2 linked regions of the Homo sapiens genome follow. The protein of the gene in region 2 purifies or fractionates together with the protein of the main gene of each other region. This does not show direct contact. Each region holds a gene or a part of one and is shown on either strand. Other genes may lie near its edges.

Evidence for each region.
Region 1: the proteins of VSX1 (region 2) and WDR20 purify together in Homo sapiens (affinity purification with mass spectrometry; 3 studies listed by BioGRID and IntAct, with this or other methods). This does not show direct contact.

Annotation. Positions count from the first base shown.
Region 1 is NC_000014.9:102,140,214-102,152,408, forward strand, and holds part of WDR20 (WD repeat-containing protein 20), read left to right. Parts: intron 1-12,195. UniProt on the Homo sapiens protein: Regulator of deubiquitinating complexes. Activates deubiquitinating activity of complexes containing USP12. Anchors at the base of the ubiquitin-contacting loop of USP12 and remotely modulates the catalytic center of the enzyme.
Region 2 is NC_000020.11:25,075,975-25,089,055, forward strand, and holds the start of VSX1 (visual system homeobox 1), read right to left. Parts: upstream 6,168-13,081; 5' UTR 6,123-6,167; coding exon 5,699-6,122; intron 5,358-5,698; exon of another isoform or gene 5,294-5,357; intron 3,541-5,293; coding exon 3,462-3,540; intron 2,979-3,461; coding exon 2,855-2,978; coding exon of another isoform or gene 2,762-2,854; exon of another isoform or gene 2,569-2,761; intron 2,144-2,568; exon of another isoform or gene 1,892-2,143; coding exon 1,711-1,891; intron 577-1,710; coding exon 287-576; 3' UTR 1-286. UniProt on the Homo sapiens protein: Binds to the 37-bp core of the locus control region (LCR) of the red/green visual pigment gene cluster. May regulate the activity of the LCR and the cone opsin genes at earlier stages of development. Dispensable in early retinal development.

The sequences.
Region 1 (12,195 bases), on a different chromosome or scaffold from region 2:
CAGAGGCCGGGAGCAGGGCGGTGACAGTGGGGCCAGGGTGACCGAGAGGGGTGGCCGTCGCTCTTACTTTTGAGTGGGCCGGTAACTCCACTGGGGTACTCCTGAGGAGAGGGGATTCAGGAGTAAGGAGGGTGGTGGCGGTGGCGTTTCGAAGGGGTGGGGGCAGTGGAAAGGGACCGTGGGGCGCGGGGGTTCTGGCTGGGAGGCTCCCGGGGGAGCCGGCTGCGTCCCCTCCAGCCTGGTCCATCAGGCTCTGACATGGCCAGGGAGCGGGCCTGCGAGTCCCCGGAAGAGGTGAGGTGGCCGTCTTGTCTGCTTCGATTGCCTCGCCTCCCTGGAGGGTTGGAAGTCTCGCCCTGGGTTAGAGAACAGGGACGCAAGACGGCTTAACAAGATCTCTGTAAGGCGGAACCGGGGCCGGGAAGCGGAGCATTGAGACTAGGTCAGAAAGAACCTGCTCGGCACGCAGGGCTACTCCACCTGCTGCCGCACTGACACTTCCTAGGAGCCTCTCCTGGTGTTAACATTTCTATTTCCAAAAACATCCGCGGGAGGACGGCTGTCACTGTCTCCGCCGTGGGGACCTTCTGAAAGATTGTTAAGGAGAGTCATCTTGTCCCTTGTAGTATGCGAAGGGCTGAGTACTACAGTTGAAATGATGTTTCCAGTGAACTAAGCTGGTTCAGAGGGGTTGTGTGAGAGTGCCCAGATTAATCTTGTCCAACAAGTCAGACTGTGTCCCAAACAGGGAGTGATATGCTTTAAAAGCTGCTTTAAAGGGACCATCCTTCTTGGCGGGCGAGTTACCGGTAATTCTGTGAAACATGTAAGCATCCTTTAAAAGTATCTCTTTAAAAGCAGCCATTTATTAGAGTTTTTCTTTCATTGGCTATGTAACTATGTTTTCACTGAGAATTGCTTATTTTTGAGATTGTAGTCTTTGACTTGATGTCATGGAAGAGTGAGGAAATTAATGCATCCCACAGCACCTCCAAATAGGACAAGGTGATAAAAGATTAAGTCGTAAATGCATGTTAGCATGAAAATAAATTGTTCATATTGAAGAGTGAACATTCTTCAGGATTTAATATAGCCAGATCCAGTACAGGATTTTCGCTTGTTACAAGAGCTAGGGAAATGACAGTGGTATCTAAATGTAGCAAAGTTGTTTCTTTGATTCAGGGTGAATCTTTTTTTCTTAGTCTTTATGATAATAAGTGTACCACTGTATTTAGGGTATGCTGTTGGAAGTTATTAAGGGTAAATCGCTTGACCTTTTTTTTTTCCTCGTTTGGAATTGCAAAAGCTCGAAGTAGTCTTCAGTCTAGGGGCTGAAGTTTTACTCCTACTCCCAACTTTGTCACTGACTTGTTTGGGTGACCTTGGATAAGTTATTTAACTTCTATTTGCACCTCTTTAAAAAGGGAATGTTACAGTGCACGTTGTAATTAATAATATAATAATCATAATGAACTTTAAGGCCCTGAAACACTCAGTAGATGTAAAATATAGTTAAATACTGACTGTCAAATAAGAAGCTGCTGTCTTGACATTGATAATCAGAGTGAAAGGACCAATTTTGTCTCAGGAAATTAAGTTTAGAATTTTAAGTTATAAAAATTTATATTTATATAAAAATACGATGTGCTTAAAAACTAAATTCACTAACTAGCAATTATTAATGTAGGAATTACTTAAAAATTTTTTTTTCTTTGAAATGTTATGACTTCTGAAGCATCCTAATGGCAGACCTTATCTGGATCTGGTAGCCCTGTTTTACATCATAAAGACAGGTTTCTTGCCTGGAAGTATCATTACAATAGTGTTCTCTTTTAGTGGGACGCTATTCCCTGAAGGGTAAAAGGAGGCAAGGTTTTTAAAACCACACCAAAAAATTATTTTAAACAAGATAAATGTGAAATACGTAAATTGCCCTTACCTGCATAATTTGAGTGTTTTAACGCTTTTTGGGTAAAATTTCATTTTCATGTGGTAGTATCTTGTAGATACATTTGCATTGTGTTGCAGATGTTTCTACTCTCTTTTAATTGTAACTTAAACATTTTTTTCCATGAATGAGTTGGCATTTATTTGTTGTTATTTCTGAGTATAAGTGACTTTTTATGACTATTTTCTGATTTAAAATATAGGAAATACATTTTCCTTAATTGGAAAACCAAAATTTACTTTTTAGAGTTAGTAGTTACAAACATATTTTTGACAGTTGGCTATTAAACATGTTTTTGTTTTTGTTTTTAGAGACAGGATCTCATCCTGTTGCCTAGGCTGGAGTGCGGTGGCGTGCTCATCGTTCACTACAGCCTCAAACTCCTGGGCTCAAATGATCTTCCCACTTCAGCCTTCCTAGTGGCTGGAACTACAGGTGTGCACCACCCTGGCTAATTAAAAAAAAAAATGTTTTTTAGAGATGGAGGTCTTGCCGTGTTGCCCAGGCTGGTCTTGAACTCCTGGCCTCAAGCGATCCTCCCACCTCAGCCTGCTAAAGTGCTGAGATTATAGGTGTGACCCACCATGCCCAGCGCACAGTTGGCTGTTTTGACTTTTTTTTTTTTTTTTTTTTTTTGGTCCTTTGAGGCGTGTAAAATTTTACAATAATTATTTGGATTATTCAGAAGATCTAATTTAGATGAGTAAATTCAACTTAAGTCTGTGTGTAAAATGAGTAGAAAATAGGTCTTTTAAAGAACTTAACTCATTAATTACGTGCTACCATTCCTGAGAGGAAACATGGGGTCCTGGGGAAATGGAGTAGGTGAGGAAGTAGTCTAACGTTCATGCTGAGGAGTGCAATCTTGATCCTTTTAAAAGGTTTACAGGTCAGTGTCTGGAGCTAGAAGGAACTTTAGAGTTTGTTATTTCACCCTCCTCAGAGCGAACCAAGGCCAGAGAGGGGATGCAAACCTGTTAGAATTTTTTCTCATAGTAAGGAAAATGAAGCACAGCTGAGTCTAAACCAGCTTAGAAGAGACTGATCCACCTTTTTGATCACAGGGATATTATATACTCCGAGCACTTCAGAATCTACCCCGGCATTTTGCCATATATTATTTTATTAAATTCTTGAGGTAGATTAAAACATCTTTTCACAATCGAGGAAGTTTAGAGTGGGGTTTCTTGTGTGAGGAGATGTAGTTTTGCAAATTTATTTAAAGACAGTATTAACATTGATTTAATACTGACACTAATCATTTTACCAGATTTGAGTGACTACTGTGATAGTAATAATACCAGGCAAGGTGATGTGAGGTATTCAGAGCTAAATAAGACCCTGTCCCTCTCCCCAAAAGACTTTCAACTACTAGCTTTTAAACATCTTTTTTTTTTTTTTGAGACAAAGTCTAGCTCTGTCACCCAGGGTGGAGTGCAGTGGCACAATCTCGGCTCACTGCAACCTCTGCCTCCTAGGTTCAAGCGATTCTCCTCCCTCAGCCTCCCGAGCAGCTGGGACTACAGGTGCGTACCACCACGCCCAGCTAATTTTTGTATTTTTGGTAGAGATGGGGTTTCATCATATTGGCCAGGCTGGTCTCGAACTCCTGACCTCGTGATCCACCCTCCTCGGCCTTCCAAAGTGCTGGGATTACAGGCGTGAGCCACTGCGCCCGGCCGTAAACATCTTTATTACATACTTTGTTCTCCTTTTTTAAAAAAAGAGATTGTGGTCGGGTGCAGTGGCTCATACCTGTAATCCCAGCACTTTGGGAGACTGAGGTGGGAGGATCGCTTGAGCCCAGGAGTTTGAGACCAGCCTGGATAATATATCAATACCCTGTGTCCACAAAAAAATAATAAAAAAAAAATTAGCTGGCCATGGTGGTATGTGCCTGTAGTCACAGCTACTTGGGAAGCGAGGAGGGCTCTTGAGCCGAAGAGTTAAGGTTACAGTGAGCTATGATTGTGCCACTGTACCCCAACCTGGGCAACAGAATGAGACCCTTTCTTTAAAACAACAAAAAAGGGGAGTGGGGCTATGCGCCATGGCTCACACCTGTAATCTCAGCGCTTTGGGAGGCCGAGGCAGGTAGATGACCTGAGGTCAGGAGTTTGAGACCAGCCTGGCCAACATGGTAAAACCCCATCTCTACTAAAAATACAAAATTAGCTGGGCGTGGTGGTGCTTGCCTATAGTCCCAGCTACTCGGGAGGCCGAGGCAGGAGAATCACTTGAACCCTGGAGTCGGAGGTTGCAGTGAGCCAAGATCATACCACCGCACTCCAGCCTGGGCGACAGAGCTAGACTCTGTCTCAAAAAAAAAAAAAAAAGATTGTTTTAGGATGTAGGATAAAAGATGCCAAAGGTAAGGTAGCTGGGCTTATTGGACCAATCCTCTCATTTTATGGACATCTGTTTTTACATAAATATGAATGGCCTCCATTCAGATCTCAGCTTAACCATCACTTCCTCAGGAAATTTTTCTTTGAATCCCCATGGTGTATCAGTTTTACCCTATTACATGTTTTTTTGTTTTGTTTTTTTTTTTGTTTTTGAGACAGAATCTTGCTCTGTTGCCCAGGCTGGAGTGCAGTGATGTGATCTTGGCTCACTGCAACCTCTGCCGCCCGGGCCCAAGTGATTCTTGGGCTACTCCCGAGTAGCTGGGATTACAGGCATGTGCCACCATGCCCAGCTCATTTTTGTATTTTAATAGAGACGGGGTTTTGCCATGTTGGCCAGGCTGGTCTTGAACTCCTGGCCTCAAGTGATTCACCTGCCTCAGCCTCCCAAAGCACTGGGATTACAGGCTCTATGTTCTTAGAGCATCTTGTGCTTTGCCTTCCTAGCACTTTTCTGAATTTGTAATTCTGTGTGATGATCCAACTGTGCCTTCTATAAAACAAAGCTCCCTTAGAATAGGGACATTATCTTTCCTGCTCTCCATCTTCTCAATGCACAGTGCAGTGTCCAGTTTAGAGTTAGGCCCTTGCTGTGTACTTGTTGAGTGAATGACTGAGTAAAGCCATGTCTGTCTATACCAAACTTGAAAGAGATCTTTAGAAGATGAAAAACCTATTCAGTTTTGGGCCCAAAAGTAACTTGGGTATTTTTTAATAGCTCATATCTTTTAAAAGACATTTAAAAATATTGCTAGTAGGTAAAAAATTTAACCTTCTTAAAATAGGGAAATCGTGTAAGAGACAATGAAGTAATAGTAAACAAATGACACAGATTACTTTTGATCTACTTCTGTCAAACCATGTCACCTACAAGATCCATGTACAACTTTTAAAAACTGTTCTCAGGCCAGGAGTGGTGGCTCATACCTATAATCCTAACACTTTTGGGAGGCCAAGGCGGGAGGATTGCAGGGGTCCAGCCTGGGCAACACAGTGAAACCTCGTGTGGGTTCGAGACCAGCCTGGACAACATAGTGAAACCCTGTCTCTACAAGGGTGGGCGTGGTGTCATGTGCCTCTAGTCCCACCTACTTGGAAGGCTGAGGTAGAAGGGTCACTTGAACTGGGGAGGTTGAGGCTGCAGTGAGCTGTAATCGTGCCACTGCACTCCAGCCCGGGCAAGAGAGTGAGAGCCTGTTTCAAAAAAACAAAACAATCAATAATAAACAAAAACTATACTCAGAATTACTTAACATTCAAGCCAAAGAACCTTCCTACCTTCCCACATCTTAAGATTCCAGGTCACAAATGTACTGCCCAGAGAAGTTACTGAAGTGGTAACTACAGGAGGTAGGAAGTAGATTTAGAGGATTCTAAGGTTTTTCCATCTCTAAAGCTTATATGATTCTGTACTCAGTTGTTTTTTTTTTTTTTAAATGGAAATGGATTCATCATTCTATTGGGGAGGTATCTTCATCTCTTTGATTCATTGCCTACTTGATTTGGAATTGAGAGGGGTGGGGTGTTTGGGAAAGCAAGCTGAAAACATTGTGATTTCTAGGTATTTATGCTGGAAGAGTTTTTTTGTTTGTTTGTTTGTTTGTTTGTTTTTGAGACGAAGTCTTGCTCTGTCGCCCAGGCTGGAGTGCAGTGGCTTGATCTTGGCTCACTGTGACCTCTGGCACCCGGGTTTTAAGCGATTCTCCTGCCTCAGCCTCCGAAGTAGCTGGGATTACAGGCACTTGCCACCATGCCCAGCTAATTTTTGTATATTTAGTAGAGACAGGGTTTCAGCATCTTGGCCAGGCTGGTCTTGAACTCCTGACCTTGTGATCCACCCGTCTCGGCCTCTCAAAGTGCTGGGATTACAGGTGTGAATCACCATGCCCGGCTAGAAGAGCTTTATGTTCATGATGCTGAGATGAAGTTGGGGCCAGAAGAAGAGTCAGTTGATAAAAGCTAAAGTATTTTTAGATCCTGATTAAAGAAGAAGGTAATGGGTTGACTTGAGAGAGAATGAGCGTTCTGTTATGGGAATGCTCATATGGGAAATGTTCTGTCTCTTTGTCAAAAACTGCAGGACCACCTGTTGGTGACATTGGAGGAATTCCTGCTTTGTGTGGGAGGGTGAACTAGATGCCTTTAAAAAAAATTTCCCCCCCACAGACTTGTTTTAGATATTTTACTGCTTCAGAGAGGGTCATGTTCACACCATTCTCCCCTTTTGTAATTTTTCACACCTCCCTGGCTCCCCTTTTATAATTTAGAAAGAGGTTTAGAAGTCTGTAACTTTTTGTATTAGATTTACTTTGAGAAATCTTGTACTTAATTTAGTAGGTCACAGAGGGTTGCTGAATGACTGGAAACTTGTGTTTCTTTTCCATTAAGGGCTATTTGCTGACTTCTGAAATATTGATGATTTATTTGACTTTAGAATTTTGCATACTGAGGGGAAAGCATCTTAATGTATCATTTAAAGCAGGAGATACTTTCATACTATACCTGGGTTCTCTTGGCTTTGAAGAGGAGGGTGGTCATGAGATATTGAAAGATTGCATGGGTGGCTTGTAATCCCAGCACTTTGGGAGGCTGAGGCGGGTGGATCATCTGGGGTTAGGAGTTCAAGACCAGCCTGGCCAACACGGGGAAACCACATCTCTACTAAAAATACAAAAATTAGCCAAGTATGGTGGCGCATGCCTGTAATCCCAGCTACTCAGGAGGCAGGAGAATCACTTGAACCCAGGAGGTGGAGGTTGCAGTGAGCCAAGATCGTGCCAGTGCACTCCAGCCTGGGCAACAAAGCGAGACCTTCCCAAAAAAGGAGGACTTCATGGGTAGATATGAGCAATGGTGAGAAGCACCTGGAATATGTCATGGAAGTCCGTGAGATAGTCATGAATGCCATTCTTTCAGCAAATATTCATGGAGTATGCCTACCAGATATGAGGTACTGTTTTAGATGCTGGGTGTAGTCAGAGTCTCTGCCCTCAAGAAATGTGTCACTTATACGATATTTATTATCATTGACTTAATATAGTGACTTAAGGGTAAAGTGCTTTGATGGCAAACTTGAGCTTGAGCAAGCATCAAAACATGGTGGATTTTGTCACTGAGTGGTTTGGCTGTATGGCTAAAGAACCTTGTTTTATTTTATTTTAGTTTTAGTTTTAGTTTTGGAGACAGAGTCTCACTCTATTCCCCAGGCTGGAGTGCAATGGCATGATCTTGGTTCACTGCAACCTCTGCCTCCCGGGTTCAAGCCATTCGCAGGCCTCAGCCTCCCGAGTAACTGGGATTACAGGCACCTGCCACCACACCCAGCTAATTTTTGTCTTTTTAGTAGAGACGGGGTTTCCCCATGTTGGCCAGGCTGGCCTTGAACTCCTGACCTCAGGTGATCCACCTGCCTGGGCCTCCCAAAGTGCTGGGATTACAGGCGTGGGCTACTACGCCTGGCCAAGAACCTTGTTTTAAAAATAGGAAGATTTTTGTCGTCTGGAATTTAGTATCTCAGAGAATAATTCTGTTTGTTTCTCAGTGAGGTTAGTTTGTGCAGTAATATGAAATGTGATCTTGTTTGGTTATTCAGGAGAAGACCTTAAAAATAGAAGTAACCTTAATTGGTAGACATTTCTAATTGGTAGACTTCAGTTTTAATTTTCAGGACACTTGAAATTGACAGCATCAGTGACAAGTTACCTTGGCTCTTGCCCTTAATCCCAGTATTTTAGGAGACCGAGGCAGGAGGATTGGTTGAGCCCCAGGAGTTTGAGACCAGCCAGGGCAACATAGTGAGAGCTCATCTCTACAAGAAAAAATTAGCCAGGTGTGGTGGTGCACGCCTGTGGCCCCAGCTATTCAGGTGGCTTAGGTGGGAGAATTGCTGGAGCCTGGGAGGTTGAGGCTGCAGTGAGCGGAAATTGTGCCACTGGACTCCAGCCTGGGTGACAGAGCTGAGACTCTGTCTCAAAAAAAAAAAAAAATCATAATCCTCATTCATCAAGCATTTATTGATGACTGGTATATACAAGGCACTGCTGTCTATTGTGGCGGATGTGAAGTGTATTTAACACTCCTGTCTTTAAAGAGTTTGGCTTTGTGTGTGTGTGTGTGTGTGTGTGTGTGTGTGTGTGTGTTTGGAACAGGGTCTCACTGTGTCACCTAGGCTGGAGGGCAGTGGCACAATCATAGCTCACTGCAGCTTCAACCTCCTGGGCTCAAGTGATCCTCCCGCCTCAGCCTCCTGAGTAATTGGGACTACAGGCATGTGCCACTGTGCCTGGATAATTTTTAAAAAATTTTTTGTAGGCCAGGCGCGGTGGCTCACGCTTGTAATCCCTGCACTTTGGGAGGCCGAGGCGGGCGGATCACGAGGTCAGGAGTTTGAGACCGTCCTGGCTAACACAGCGACACCCCCTCTCTACTAAAAATACAAAAAAATTTAGCTGGGTGTGGTGGCGGGTGCCTGTAGTCGCAGCTACTCGGAAGGCTGAGGCAGGAGAATACTTGAACCCGGGAGGTGGCGCTTGCAGTGAGCTGAGATCGTGCCACTGCACTCCAGCCTGGGCGACAGAGTGAGACTCTCTCAAAACAAAACAAACAAACAAAAAATACATACATAAATACATTTTTTTCTTTTGTAGAGACTGGGTCTTGCTGTGTTGCCTAGTCTGACCTTGAACTCCTGGGCTCAAGTGATGCTTTTGCCTTGTGCTCCCAAAGTGCTGGGATTACAGATGTGAGCCATTGTTCCCGGCTGATTTTGTATTTATCATTATAATACAAAGTAGAGGATATGTGCTCTGCATGTGGCATAGCAATGTAAGTATCAAGTGGAATTAAGGAGTAAAGGTGAAGTGGAAAAGTATTTCTCTGCCTAGTAGAAGAATATTGCATTGGGTTTCAAATAGATAATTTGCCCTAAAATGTTGTGTGCAGATCATATTTTTTATAAATTTTTAAATTTGTTGCCTTGTATTTCTAATTTCAGAAATGCTTTATTTTTATTTCTGATTGAGCGTAAGATGTCCACTGCTCTTTTAGCATTTTTCTCAACTTTTCAGCTTCTCTGCCAGTTGGTAATTTGTAAATTGAGAAATATTTTGTGTCATCAATTCTATTTTATTTATTTATTTATTTGAGACGGAGTCTCACTCTGTCGCCCAGGCTGGAGTGCAGTGGCTCGATCTCAGCACACTGCAACCTCTGCCTCCTGGGTTCAAGCAGTTCTCTGCCTCAGACTCCAGAGTGGCTGGGACTGCAGGCACATGCCACCACGCCCGGCTAATTTTTGTATTTTTTAGTAGAGATGGGGTTTCACTGTATTGGCCAGGCTGGTCTCTTAACTCCTCACCTCGTGATCCACCCGCCTTGGCCTCCCAAAGTGCTGGGATTACAGGCATGAGCCACCGCACCCAGACGTCGATTCTATTTTGTAGTAGATTTTTAAAAAGTAGATATATTATTCTAAAAACATGCCAAATCAGTTTGTGTTACAGCTTATCTTGCTTTGTATCAATAGGAAAATAGCTTAAATATATAGGTTTTATAAGAAAGAAGCAAGAATCATTCATGAGGAAGGAATTTATAAGGATTTTATATTTACAAAGTAAGAATCAGGCCTGGCATAGGATTACATCACGCCTGTAATCCTAGCACGTTGGGAGGCTGAGGTGGGAGGATTTCTTGAGGCTAGGAGTTGGAAACAAGCCTGGACAACATAGTGAGACCCCATCTCTACAAAAATTAAAAATTAGCTGAGTGTGGTGGTGTGCGCCTGTAGTCCCAGCTACTCGGGGCCGAGGTAAGAGGATTGCTTGAGCCCAGGGTGGGGAGGTCGAGGCTGCACTGTGATTGAGCCACTGCACTCCAGCCTCAGCGACAGAATGAGACCATCTCAAAAAAAAGTAAGAATAATTCAGTAAGAGGGAATATTTTAACATCTTAGTTACCGCATTGTAGATTATTGCTCTGCCATGAAGCTGTTTTTTTCTTTAGTTGACTCACAGCCAGCTTACCCTTTTACTACCCTTTTTTGTTCTGCTACAGTAAAACTTGTACAGGTGCTCATTCTCTTTACTTACTTGGATCTCTGCTTTAGAGCTCTGTCTTGCCTTAATATTTCATTTAATAAATATTTGAGTAGTTTTTGTGTGAAAAGCAGTATGCCAGACTTTGGGAAATCAAAGAAGTATGAGGTATGGGCCCTGACCTTAAGAGTATCATCTAACCAAGGACGGACATGATATTCACACACTCATTCTAAGAGGACTTACTGAGTGCCTGCTCTATATTGTTAAGAATCTCTGCTGTCAAAGAGTTCACAGTCCAATGGAATAATCAAGGGCTTATTCATTCAACTAACATTTATTGGACCTGTGGATCCAAAGATAAATAAGACATAGTCCCTGGCCCAAAGTGCCTACAGTCTAGTGGTGAGACAGATAAGTAAACCAGCAATGATAAGGCAGCTGCTAAAAGGCATTCAGAACTGAACATTGCCTATTAATAGGTGCTGTGTACAGTTGGTGAGAGGATAAATGCATAACTCTTTAAAGTTTATAGCCTTTTTATTTTCTCTTCAAAACCATCCATTGGGGAATTTTTTTTTTTTTTTTTTTTTTTTTGTCATTGGAGAGATTGTAGTGTGTCCACGGATAATGAAGGGCTACAGTAGAGCCTGATGTTAAACCCAAGGCCTGTGCCTAGGCCTCTTACACGAGCTTTTCTGTCAAAAAACGAACTATGACTGATACTGATGTGATTCCTGAGAGTGGGAAATAGTAGGCTAAAAAGTAATTAGGAGGTGTTTTTTTGTTTTTGTTTTTGTTTTTGTTTTTTTGAGACAGGGTCTCACTTTGTAGCCCAGGCTGGAGTGCAGTGGCTCAATCATAGCTCACTGCAGCCTTGAACTCCTGGGCTGAAGCCATCCTCCCACCTTAGCCTCCCATGTAGCTGGGACTACAGGTGTGCACCACCACGCCTGGCTAATTTTTTTTTTGGTAGAGACGAGGTCTTGCTGTGTTGTCTGGGTTGGTCTTGCCTGGGTTCAAACGATCTTCCTTCCTTGGCCTCCCAAAATGTTGGGATTATAGGCATGAACCACCATGCTGGGCCAGGAAATATTTTATAGAAGAGATATGACATGGGTACTCTTTTCTTTTCCTTTTTCTTTTTTTTTTTAATGAAACAAGATTTCACTTTGTCACCTAGGCTGGAGTGCAGTGACACAATCATGGCTCACTGCAGCCTCAACCTTCTGGGCCCAAATAATCCTCCTGCCTCAGCCTTCCAAGTAGCTGAGTCTATAGGAGCATGCTACCACCCACACCCACCTGGCTAATTTTTACTTTTTTTGTTTTTGGACACAGGGTCGGTCTCGCTCTGTTGCCCAGGCTGGAGTGCACTGGCACGATCTCAACTCACTGCAACCTCCGCTTCCTGGGATCAAGGGGTCTTCCCACTTCAGCCTCCTGAGTATCTGGGACTATAGGCACCATGCCCGGCTAATTTCTGTATTTTTTTATAGAGACAGGGTTTCACCATGTTGCCCAGGCTGGTCTTGGACTCCTGACCTGATATCATCCTCCCATCACAGCCTCCCACAGTGGTAGGATTATAGGTGTGAGCCACTGAACCCTGGCCCATGAGTACTCTTTTTCTTCCTCTCGGATATAAAGAAATGATCTGAACATCCCTGGAAGTATTGATAAGAAAGACAGCAAGATTTAAGAGATCACATAATAATAGTAATAGCTGACATTATTAATAACATATTAATCATGTTAATAATAGTGTGGATTATGGATAATTATGGATATTGTGCTAACAGATTAT
Region 2 (13,081 bases):
TTGAACTTCGGATCCTCCCTGCTCAAGCTACAAAAGAGAATCAAAAGTTTTGCACCAAGTTAACTGGTTAAAGTGCCATTAAGGAACCGTTTCCATTCTAGAATGAAATAGAATTTTCCCTAGGTCACTCATCTGTCCTCTTAAAGCAAGTGGCATTGCATTTTATCTTGACATTGTCAGAAGAAAATCAAACTGAGAGTATATGTCTTGGACAATTTTTGTCTTTTGGAAAATGCCAGTGAGGAATATGCACATTTTCAGCCTTTGACAGTGGGACCTGTGGGTCTCATGTGGCTCCCACCTTCCCTGGCTGGGGCCCCTCCAGTGCCGTGGAGTTGGAGCCTCCTTGAGCACCAGCCCCAGGGTGCACTTTCTTGGTCTCCTGCCGGGCAGAGCTGGAGAGGTCAATAGCCACATCTTCCAAGCCATTCTCAGGGCTCACTTTATCTGAGCCTCTCTGTGATCCTGACTCACTCTGGCTAGAACCTTCTTTGAAGTGGTCAGAGCCCCAGAGTCCTGCCAACTTATCTTCACTTCCTGGCTTCCTTATCATCCCCATGGATTTTTTATGCATCCCTTGTAAAAAAAAAAATAAAAAGGAAAAAATAAAAATAAAAATTTAAATTCAGCAATGAAGTAAATTTCCTTCTTATTGTTCTCTAAATCCCACTAGAATTGTCCTTGTCAGTGCCTATCTCTGGGGCCTACAGGAGAGGCAGGTAGGTAACTCCCACCTTAGGGGTTTAAAGCAGGTGTCTGACCCCGGGTCACATCCAGCAAAGGTGTTTAGGATGACACAGTGATTGGCATTGGGCCCACTTTCCCCTAGGCTGCGGTCTCGCAGATGCCAGTAAGTGCCCTCCCCCACCTGTTTGTGCAATTTCAGATGAGCCAGTTTGGGTCACTGCCTACAATGCTCCCTCTAGTGTTTCAGTCCTTGAGAGCAAAGTCAGGACATATCTATGATTGGAACCTCCAGTGCCCAGGATAGGGCTGCTTGGTAGCTGTTCAAAAACTGTTCGCTGAGCAAAAAACTTCCTCCATCTAAACCTAAAATGCCACCATGATCCTCCTAACTAATTACCCCGTGCCCGGAGGTACTCATCTGTGACTCATTCCCACAATCTGTGATCCCTGCCTGTTGGTTTCTGGCGACAGCAAACAGGGCAACAAGGGTGGAGCATCCTGAGAGTGCTGGGTCTCAGCAGCGGAGACTCTTTGAGCACCAAAAATCTAAGGGACAGAAAAGCCACTCGGCAGGTTGTTCATGGCAGAACCAAGCCCGGGGCCAGCCCTCCTGACTCAGATGGAGGGGCTCACTGTCCCCAGGGGTCGCTGCTCAGCACTGCCCTGTTTCCTATTACCAAGTGCCCTAAATTGTATGGTTTCTAAAAATTCTAACAGCATTCAACACTTGGATGCTGTTAATGCAATGATGTCATTTCACCCTTAAATCCCAAATACATATTTAGCATGCATAGCCCGGTGAGACTTCCACACAGCCTAGACAGTCTCTGTGAAAAATGAGGCAACCATCCAGTTGCTGCAAGCTTTGTTATTAATTAAAAATAATAAGAACGGTTCTGGACCTGAATCTCAGTAAACTGACGTTGCTTTGCTTTGGAAATGGCTGCCTCGGTGGGGACACCCTGGGATTCCCCCACCTCCTACAACACCTCGAGCCGTGCGATCCCGGGGGCCCTTCCTTACCCAGGAGCCAGGGCGCGCAGGAGCCCAGCAGGCCGCCCTCGGCGGAGTTGAGCACGGAGTCTGGCAGCGGGATGCAGTGGCGCACCATGGCCCCGTACAGCCCGTACTCGGCCATCACGCTGCTGCCGCCCCAGCGCTTCTCCCGCTTGCGCCATTTGGCCCTGCGGTTTTGAAACCAGACCTGGTTGGAGGCAGGAGAAGCAGAAGGCACACAGAAGAGACAGTGAAGAGGGGCGCCTGGAGGAGCGGAGGCGGCGTCCCAGGGCTCGGATCTTCTCTCCCGAGCATGATCCCATGCTATTTCTGAAGGAAATAGCTCCCGAGGGCCAACCAGCCGCCCTCAGGGAGAGCGCCCAGGAGCCCCCAGCAGCGCCCACGTGCGGTCCGGACTCACGGGCATTCAACGCAGTAGGGACACTTGTGACCACGTCCACTGAAGTTTCCATAGAGTCAGGAATGAAAAAAACTAAAGAATCAAACTCCCTTTTCCCACATTGTGTGAAGAGGTCAACTACAGTGTTTCCTGCTTTTTCTCATTAATTGGAATGAGCTCACTGGGGCACTGGCTCCTTCCGAGCTTAGGCTATTGGGTTGCTGGTGATATTTCTCATTAAAAACATTATGTTAATAAAGGACTATTATGAAATACGGTTTAGCTGTTAAAAAAAGAGTTAGTGACATATCTTCTGATAAAACCAAGAGGAAAATTCTATGTATGCATGTGAGTGTGTGTATATATGCATGTAGATATGTATATGCACATACATATTCAGGGGCAGATAATATACTCCACAAAGTAGAGAAAGGTCTCCTCAGGCATTTGTGTTGATTTCTTTCAGGGTTTGAGATGGAGAGGTAGTCTCTTTTTTTTTTTTTTCATTGACATATCTTTATAGTTTCTAGTTGCAGCACACATTATCATGTGATTTTAAAGAATGATTTGATACTAAATAATAATAAAATGAAAAAAGGCATGAGGGTCATAGGGGCAAGCTCTTGTGGTGCCTTCAGCTAAGGGACCCTCAGTTTCTATGCAAAGGGAGCGTGTTGGCTATAGAGAAGGGACTGCTGATTGGCTCACTGAATGTGGGAATGACACGTTCTCTGTGGTATCTTTGGAGCGGAGAAAAGGGACCCCAGACACCTGTATCCGGTCTTCGGGGAGCTCAGTTTTCACAGCCAGCATTTCTCGGGCATACACATCAGGGTAGTGGGCCTCGCTGAATGCCTTCTCCAACTCTTCCAGCTGGTGAGCAGTGAAAACTGTCCTGCAAGGACCCCAAAACACACAGGTGGGCACATGTCCCCTGGGGACAGCAGCCTCCCTGGCCTTAAGGACCACCGTGCCTGCTTCCTCTGCTGTCCAGACCCTAGAAGCCACTTCATGATAATGGAACACCCCACCTCTGAATGATTAGCTGATGTCCAGAAATTTGATTCAAACGAAAACAGTTCTTTAGCTCTTTCTTAATGAATTCCATCAGCTCATTCTGACAAAATCCATTTGACAGATCCACAAAATTGTCTTTAAAATGCTCCCAAAAAAATGCTAGCAAGATTGTAGCATTTTCCCAGCCTCCTAGGAACTGCAGAATTATCTTCCCAAATGGCTTCTGTGCCCTTCCCATTGCCAACCAGGAAACCACTGGGCCTGCTATCATGCCGGGCCATAAATTCTCAGATGCAGGTGCCATAAACCTTGGGCTGTGTCCCGAGGAAAGGCAGGCAGAGGGGACTGCCTGGCCCTATACCTGTGCCGCCGCTTCTTCCTCTTGCCCAAGGTGGGGGATGCCTTTAGGTCATTCCTGTCTTCAGACTGGCTGTCCTCATCTGATGGCACAGAAAGAAGAAGAGGACTTTAAGGGTGATCATATCCCCTCTATTTCCTGGATTTTAATGTGAGGATTGAAGTTATGAACCTCTTGGGTACTTAAGTAGTTTACAGTATGAGCCAGCATTTTTAGTGCCTACTAGATCCCAGGCTCTGTGCTTAACACTGTCCATACATTATCTCAAGTATTCTTAATATAATAATAAAACACCAAAATGGCTGCTGCTATTATTATCATCCTATTTTTACAGATGAGGAAACTGAGGCACCGAATGGTTAAGTAATTTGCCCAAAATCACACAGGTAGTAAATGGTGAAGTTGAGAATTCAAATCCCAGATTATCTGAAGCCAAAACTACTCAGCCACTGATTGCACTTTCTATCCCCACACTGCTTCCAAACACATCCACCCCTATGCCCCCAGCCTCATCATCTTAACCTCTACACCAACATTTCCCAAAGGAAGTCTGGGGCTTGTGACATCAGAACCCTCGTCAGAACTGCAACCCTTCCCTGATGCACCAAATCAGAATCTCTGGAGGTGGGATCTAGGAGGCTCATTCTTGACAAGTGTGCTCAGATGATGTGTAGTTGCCCTTGAAAATTTGAGAACCACTCCACTGTGCTTTACCTTTTTATATCCAATACATCAAAAAGTCTAGATGGAAAAGAAGGTTAGAAGGCCAAACTATTGTGAGATTCATTGCTAGAAGGCATAATTGCCTCAAAATATCTTTAAAATGAATAAAGGCAAAAATAACTAAATAATACTAGTTTTACTCATCCATCAATTAGTTCACCAGAAACCTGGCTTGGATTAAAACATTCTGTATTGGGCTGTCCAACCTGATGAGACATGAGACACATAAGGTTATTAAGCACATGAAATGTGGCCAGTAAGATCAAGACATGCTGTAAACATAAATCACTTAATGGAGTTAGAAGACTTAGTGCTCCTAAAAAGTAAAATATTTTTGTATTGATTATGTGTAAAATGATAATATTTGCTATCATTGTTGGGTTAAAATATAGTATTTAGATTCATTTCACTTTTAATGTGACTGTGAGAAATTTCCGTCAAACATGAAATCACATTTCATTTTTCTTGGACAGCTCTGCTCCAGACTTTCAGAAATGCTGGCAGAGTTGGATTTAGCTGCCTTTGGTTTTGTAAGAAAGAACCCATCCCATGAAAACAGTTTTGCATTTTTAGTGACACTAATAGGGAGTTTCATTTTATCTTACGTAGAGCTCATGAAATAAAGTCCTTTTAGAGTGGAGCAAAAACCTGCCTGCCTATTGATCTGACATGCTTCCTTTTAGTATCAGAAGACCCAGTCTACTCTTTTTGCCTTGGCTGCCTGGATGCTCAGCTCTAGATTCTACCACATACCATCCTTTCTTGTGTAATTCTTTCTTTTCTCTCCCACACCCAAAACCACTCGTTTCCTTAGCCCTTGTCCTTTATAGAATTTCATTGCTTCCTTCTCTTTCCCCGCGACCCGTCTGGATTTCTTTGGGGAAATGGGTAGGCCAGGAACACATCTCTAGGCGTAACTACAATGAATCCCCAAGGTTGCTTCTTTCTCCTGCACAGGGGACTGGGAGGACGCTGCGCCGGCAGAGGAGCGCGGTACCCGGGACTCCCTTTTCAGCACCCCAAGGGGCGGACAGTTCCAGGGCTCGAGGCCCCGTACTCTTCCAGGACCCGTCAATCATTCGATCATTTCCGCCCGCGTTTCCACCTGGTACCTTGTTCGGTGCTGCTGGTGACCACCACAGGCCCGGGCCTTCCCGACCCACGCAGCTGCCAGAGGCGGAGACTGGCGCCTGGCGCTGGGGGGAAAAATGGCCCTCTGGAGATGGTTGTTGAAGACCCCAGGGTCTCATCAAAAGGTTCCACCCGGAACCAGGTGGTGGCGGTCTCACATCGCTGAGGGAACAGGACCCCGGATGAGAGGCAGGGATTTAGGATGCAGCAAGGGGCAGGCGGCGCAGCTCCGCGAATGCCCCTCCCGCGACGGGGCCTCGCTCTGGGCTCCCCGCCTAGATCTGGGCCGCTGGGGCCAGGGGTGCGGTGGGGCGATGGTCTGTGACCCCTGCGCGGCTCAGAGCCTAGGGGACAGGGGCAGGAGCGGAAAGCGCGGGCCTGATTACCGGACGTGGAGACGCTGTCGCTGCGCTTCTGGCGGCCGAGCGCAGGCGGCGGACGGCTGGGAGCCAGCGGGGCAGCGGGCTCGGGGCCCCTGGGCGGCAGGAACGGCACGTCCGCTAGGAGCAGGCAGGGTGCTCGAGCGGCCGCCGGCGGCTGCGTGCCGAAGCCACAGAGGAGGCCGAGTCCCAGCGGTAGGGCCCCACGCGCCAGGCTGGAGCCGTCAAGCCCCGGGCCCGGGCACGGCGCGACTGCCGGACCCTCGCAGCCAGATCCCTGTCCTGGGCCAGCGGGCGCCGGCAGCTCGGCCTCCAAGCCCAGCAGGTCCGTGATGGCGAAGCCCCGGGGGCGCGAGCCCCTAGGGGAACCGCCAGGCACCAGCGCCCTGCTGCTAGTGCGCCCGTCGGAAAGCGAGTCCCGGCCGGTCATGGTTCCTTAGCAAGCAAGGCGCGAGCCTCTCTGGATCCCGTTTGCGGAGGGCCCAGCTTAGAGGAAGCTTTATAGGATTGGGCTGCCGGTCGGGCGCGGGAGGCCTGAAGGGCTCCAATCAGCTGGGCGCGGGCGCGTCGCCGTTCCGGACCCCGCGAGATGGGGACGCCACCAGTTCCCCTCCCCTCGGTTACCGCCCACCCAGCTGCAGTCCCCTCAGTCACCTCCTTCTCCTCCTCTCTTCTGTCCAGCCCACCCCACCCCACCCCACCCCCATTCTAGGAGGGAGGGGAGGAAAGAAGGTAAGGGACAGTGACTCCGCTGTCTGCCTGTCCCTCGAAAAGTCGCAAGTTCTACATCCTGGCGTGGCCTTCTCCTTCCTTCCAGACTCTCTGGGTGGAGGCCCCACTCCCAGCTGCCCTGAAGCTTCTTTGATGCGACCCAACTGCCTATTAAGACCTAGGACCCCATTCCCAACCACACCCCGATGGCTACCCCATATATGTCCCCAGCCAGCCCTCCACCTCCGCCGCCGGTGCCACGAAGGCCTTCCTGTAAGAAGGCCTTCTCTGAAAATCCCCAAGGGGAAAGGAATGAAAACCGTGTATTTAATCCATGGTCATCCTACCTCCATCCCTTTAATCCATGGTCATTCTACCTCCATCCAAATCCACCCCCAGGTCCATCCCCAACACTCCACGGGCTGAACTGTAGGGGGTGGCAGACTCACAAGAGCTGGGGAAAGGGAGAGAAGCAGAGAGAGGAGTGGACTGCCCGGGGCTGAGACGGGCAGGGTACCAGGTTTAACCAACAAAACACTGTCGGCTCAGTGAAATGTGATTTCAGATAAAAAAGGAGGGCTTTTTTTTTTTGTAGGAGTATGTATCAGTATTTTATCCAGCAACCCTAAATTGGGGAGGAGTGGAGGGAGGTAAATTGAAATAAAATAGAGTCTGTCTACTGGAAAGCACACCTTTTCATCGGGGCTTACAATTTATTGTCCAATTTCACGATTATTCAAAGAAAGCCTGATTCTTTGAATAATCAGTGAAACTCTGATATTCGCTAAAGTTGGCCCCAAGCACGTGGGTAAGTAACTACTGGTTCGCGCTTTGAACCCAACCAGCCCTCATCGCTCGGAGCCCTGCGTCCCCCGCTTCCCAATCCCAGAACCCCGGAAGCAGATCTCCTCAGTCCCACTCCCTGAGGGTCCTACAGTCCGAGGTCCCGCAGCGAGGGAGGAGCAAACGCCTGAGCTCCGCGGGAACCCGGCGCGGCTGCCTGCGCGCACGCAGGGACCGGAGCCCGAGCCTGGGCCCTGCAAAGTGGGTCTCCCACTCGCTGCGCGTTCGAGTGGGGCCTCCGCTAAACATGCAGATTAAACAAGGGGCTTCCGATAAGGATAATTACAGGAGGCTGCGCATTGACTTTCCGTTACTAAAGGAAGACCCAAATCTCCCCCTTGCAAGCTGTTCCCGGGATTACCAAAACAATCACTTTCTTTTGAGATCATTGTCTTTTGAACCACTCCAGCTCGGGGCAGAACGCTTTAGACGCTGGCGTTGTTTTCCGCTCCGCGAGGAATTTTCCCCCAGATTTATCTCTGGGTTTAGGGAAGGCGTTGGGCATTCGGGACTGCGTAGTCGTTTGTAAATCCGAATTTGGGGTAGCAGTTAAGTGAGATACCTACGCTTCCACACAGTTTGTAGCCCGAGACCAGTCAGGCAGGCAGGGTAGTCGATTCTAAGGTGGCCCGACCGGGGTCGCCCGCGAATGGAAAGCCTAAGGGGCGAGGGCGGACGCGGGCGCCGTGCCTGCAGCCCCGGGTGCCGACCAAGTGGCCTCACCTGGGACAGGTCTTGGGGTCTCCCTCCCCTAGGTCTCCCTGGAAGGTAGGCGATCACGGGAGTGACAGACCCCGAGTAGATAGCCAGTGATCCAAAGACACCAAAAGGCCAGGCGGTAGGAGCCCAGCCTCAGACACTCTCTATAGTGACCGCGGCGCCTCGGGAAGGATCGTCTTAAACTCATTTTGCAGGTGAGAGCAACTGGGACTTATTAACCCAGTCACATCGGACACAGAGACGTGGCGAGGGCGACACAGAGCAGGAGACTCAATCAAGGAGCCCGTATTGGAGCTCTAAGGGGACTCAGAGATGCAGAAGGAACGAACTTCTAAGGGGTCTTGCAATTCCTGGACTGGGGCGTTCCTAATGCATCCCGGGACCCCAATGCCAGGGAGGGGCCTGCAGGACCCCAGCGGTGGGCGAGTTGTGTCCTGGGTCACCTTGTGTTTCGCAGCGTGGCGGTGGCAGGAGCCCAGCGCGGGAGGACATTTTCATAGCCTCCTACAGTGAGAAACGCCCCCCACCCGACGCTGCGCTCATCTGTGTCCCCGCTGTTGCCGGGGCTCTGGTATCCACTTGCGCGCCCTATGTGGTGGGGATCCACCCAGAGCCCAGCGTCAAGTTATACGGGCGCTTCACTCAGCGTCAGCCAAGACCAGGGAAGCGCTTCTTGCCGTTTAGGAGACGTCTGCAAGAGATAAAAAGCTAGCCCACGATCCACCCACAATCCTCGTGTCCCCGGGGTGCCCTCGCAGTTGCCAAACCTACGGGCCGCGTTTAGGGGAAGCCTCCGCGTCCTGGCGGCCAAAAGAATGGGCTCCTTCCAGCTTCCCCCTACCGGATACCACCTGCAAATCTATTGCCAGAGGCGCAGCTCCCGCGAACGTTCCCGCCCCGGGCGGCCCCCAGGAGTCGTTTTGGGTCCCTAAATCCGTTGAGGGTTCCGAATCTGTCTTCATCAGCCAGGATTACCCGGGATTTAACTAATGAATAAAGGTTCCTCAGCTCATTATTTTCTAAGGAAGATTTCCAGCCCCTCTGTCGCCGACCGCGAATGTGCCTTGGCAGCGCCAGGCTGAGGTTGGACCTGCTGTGAGTGGCTCAGCAGGCACCCCTCTTGGGCTTCTCAGAGCCGCGGCTGGCCAGGCTGGCGCGATAAAGTGCTCAGACACAATGGGGTGGGATGCCCCGAGAAGGTGAAACGGATCGCCCTGTGAGTCTGCAGAAATGACCCCCCACGGCTCCGTTCTTCTGATTTTCCTCCCACCTCTGGCTGCTCCATCTCGGATGCTTTTGTGTCTTCAGTTAAAAGTCCGGGCACAGTGGCTCACGCCTGTAATCTCAGCACTTTGGGAGGGCGAGGCGGGCGGATCACAAGGTCAGGAGTTCAAGACCAGCCTGACCAAAATGGAGAAACCCTGTCTCTACTAAAAATACAAAATTAGCCGGGCATGGTGATGCATGCCTGTAACCCCAGCTACTAGGGAGGCTGAGACAGAAGAATCGTTTGAACCTAGAAGGCGGAGGTTGCGGTGAGCTGAGATAGAGCCATTGCACTCCAGCCTGGGCAACAAGAGTGAAACTCCGTCTCCAAAAAAAAAAAAAAAAAAAAAAGTTGTGGCAGAGGCTGTTTGGCCCCACCCACCTCCAGCCTGACCCCTCCAACTGCACGCCTGCCCAGCCTCCAGTGCCCGCCACATCTTTACCTGGGGACTTTTCTCGACCTTCAGAGCTCACTCTGCCCACTAGCTAAAGGTGCCAATAATTAACACGTGGAGAAATGCGACACCAAACACTGACGGGAATTGCAATGTAAGCACCCCCCGCTACACACACACAAACACACCCCTGCACAGAGTGACTCTTAGAGGTGCCTTCTACTCCGCCTCCCAGAGATCCAAGCAGGAGGAGCTTTAGTTACTTGCTGATGATTGCATTCCATATTGCCTCGTATCTAAATGCTGTTGTGCCTACCCAGACCCCCTTTCCAGAACTGTCGCACCTTCTTCCAGCTGTTGTGAGTGTGGGGCCCTCGAATAGGAAGAATTGCCCTTGGCTGACAAAAGCCCCTTAATCCAGAGCCCCCCACCCCCTGACAAACACACACACTGTGTCATCAACTGACAGAGGGATGATAGGAGGCCTCTCCTCTCGTTTCAAAGGACAGCTCTGCAGAGGCGTTTCTGCTACAAGACCCTCTCCCTTCATGGATCAGACCAAGTCAGCTCCTTGCTCAGCTTGTTCCCACCCCATCTTGGCCCCTCATTCCTGAGACCTTGTCTCAATATCTCTCAGGCGCCCAGACCCTGTCCCTGGCTCTGCTTCTAGCCACCTGAGCTCAGACACTTCCTGTCTCCATCTCGCTTTTACCTGGGTGTTCCTGGAATGCTCAGCTCAAAGTCTACAGAGCCCTTCTTTCTTCTCAGGTGGAACCCCACGGGGCAATCACCATCTCCCTGCCCAGATCTCTGGAATCTTCTCCAATCTGGACCCCACTCTTGAAGCCCAGGCTGTTGTCTCAATGTACTCCTGCATGTCTGAACCAGTCTCCCGGGGCACTGAAATGCAACACACCCAGAGCTGAACACAGCAGCCTCCCCTGCAGCCTGCACCTCCCCAGGTCTCCTCTTCCTCCACCCCGGGGCCCACACAGAATCGAGTGTCATCCTCAGGCCCTCACTCTCCCCACAGGCTCTCCTCCCACGACTGAAAGTGATGAAGATGGCCAACCTCTCTTGGCTTCTTACTGGGGGGCAGCTATTATTATAAACACCTTATCACAATGGCCACATTTCATCCTGACCACAGCTCTATGGGTAGATAATATTATTGTCCACATGCTTCAGATGAGGAAGTGAAAATTTCAAGTGATTAAATAATTGCATAAATTGCCCAAGGTCACTCACTATCCAGTGGCAAAGACAGGATTTGAATACAAGCAGTGTCAGCTCACGGCCTAACTCTGACTGTGGGTGTCTTGCTGCCCTGCATCTCTCTTCAAACCCTCTCAAAGTGGCATCTTCTTTCCTTTGCCTGCTCTGATTTGACTGTGTGCCCTGAAGTTCGTGTGTTGTGCCTTAATCGCCAATGCAACAGTGTTGAGAGGTGGAGGCTTTAGGGAGTGATTAGGTCAGGAGGGCTCTGCCCTGAGGAGTGGATCAATACCATTGTTGCAGGAGTGGGTTAGTTATTGTGGGAATGGGTTAGTTATCGTGAGAGTGGGTTAGTGACCATGGGAGTGGGCACATGAGTTTGGCCCCTTCCCGCCCCCTCTTCTGCTCTTCCTCTCTCACCATGTGACACCTTCCACCATGTGATGTGGCAGCAAGAAGGCCCTCACCTGATGTGGTCCCTTGACCTTGAACTTCTTCCCAGTCTCCAAACCATGAGCCAAATAAACCTGTATTGTTTATGAATTACGCAGTCTGTGGTATTCTGTTACCGCAGCACAGAACAGACCATGACACCACCCATTGCCACAACATGGCTCAGACCAATTGCTCACTTGCTGGAGTGGAATTTATTTTTTAGTCTAGGGCTACTCAGTATACAAATGAGTTTCAGAGTACCCTAAAGAGGTGGCTTCTAAAAAAAAAAAGAAAGAAAGAAAGAAAAAAAACAGCAGGTAAAGTCCTCCTTGTCCCACTCCTTGGCAGTTCTGTGACCTTGACCCAGGGACAAAAGGAGAGGGAGGGTTTTCTGCAGCAGCAATGGTGGGTGTCCCGTGGCTACCCTGCATGCTATGGCACACTCACTGCTGTGCCCTGTGGTGACTTGGCCTTGTTCCCAGGTGCCTGGGCTGCACATCCCTGCCCTTCCTCTCCAGCTGTCCATCAGTCTGGGGAGGGGGTGTATGGGGGAGAAACAATGCCATTCAGTAAGGCTATTTTCTGTGTAAATTGGCTGGGTGACATTTCTGTGGTTTGCATCCAATAACCCTGTCTAGGGTGTATGGCCAGGGCTCTGCCCTCTGGAATCTCCTTCTACCTCCTTCATGCCCCTCCCCATACCCCACCACTGCCATCTTTATTCCACAGCCACAGTGATCCTTGCCTGAGCACAGCCTATTGCTCCCTACTGCAGTTTCCTCAATGGCTTCCCCTTGCCACATGGGCAATGCTAACTCCTAACTCCTTCCTGCTAGTGACTGAAGAAGTGATGGTATCACATGCCCAGCTCATCAGTGAACAAGCAGGCTCTTGAGAGTCAGCAATGTGGTATATCCTATAAAACTGACCCAGGGTGCGGAGATCAGGGTTGTCCATCCTCTCATCAGCCCCATGAGAGCACCAGCCCCCGAGTTCCCTTTCTTGGCTGGATGTTCCGGTTACTATTTTAAGGTAACACATTATCCCAAAACTCAGCTACTTACAAACCATTTCATTTTGGTCACAGTTTTGTGGCTCAAAAATCTGGGGAGAGCTCAGCAGGCCATTATCACTTAGAGCCCTCCTGTGGTTGCTGTCTGGGGTGGCAGTCATCTGAGGGCTCAACGGGGCTGTGCTGGGTGCTCAAGGCAGCCCGCTCACATGGCCCAGGCTGATTGGCCTTGTGGGCTCTCGGGGAGTTGGGAGCATCCCACAAGAACCAGGCAGATGCTGCACAGCCTTTGCTGGCCCTTCCACAGAAGTCAGAGCATTACTTCCATCACGTTCAGTCAGCGAGGCCATAGCATGAGTTTTGGGGGAGTGGCACTTCTGCTTTCATGGGCCCCTTCTTCCATAAAAATATTTAAAGTTGTATTTTGTGCCTATGTTGGCATAAAGGTGAATATAATCCAGTCTAGATTCATTATTGTATATTCTTTATTATTGTACTCATTTTTCCTTCTGATTTTAAAATATATTCAATGGCATTAGAAGCATAGGCCCTGGGCATTGTACCCAAGGCATTAGTGTGCACTGGCCCTGCTGACTGGTTTAAGCAGCCACAAGCCACCAGATTCAAGGACAGGACACAGATTCAAGGTGGGACACAGGACCCACCACATCGCACTTGCAGGGCCAGGCGCCAAGCAGTGCTCAGCCACCCATCAACGCCCAGCCCAAATGGTTCCTCACCGCAGAGCCTCCCCAGGTTTTCCTGCCCCAGCTGGAACAAAATCACTGCTGC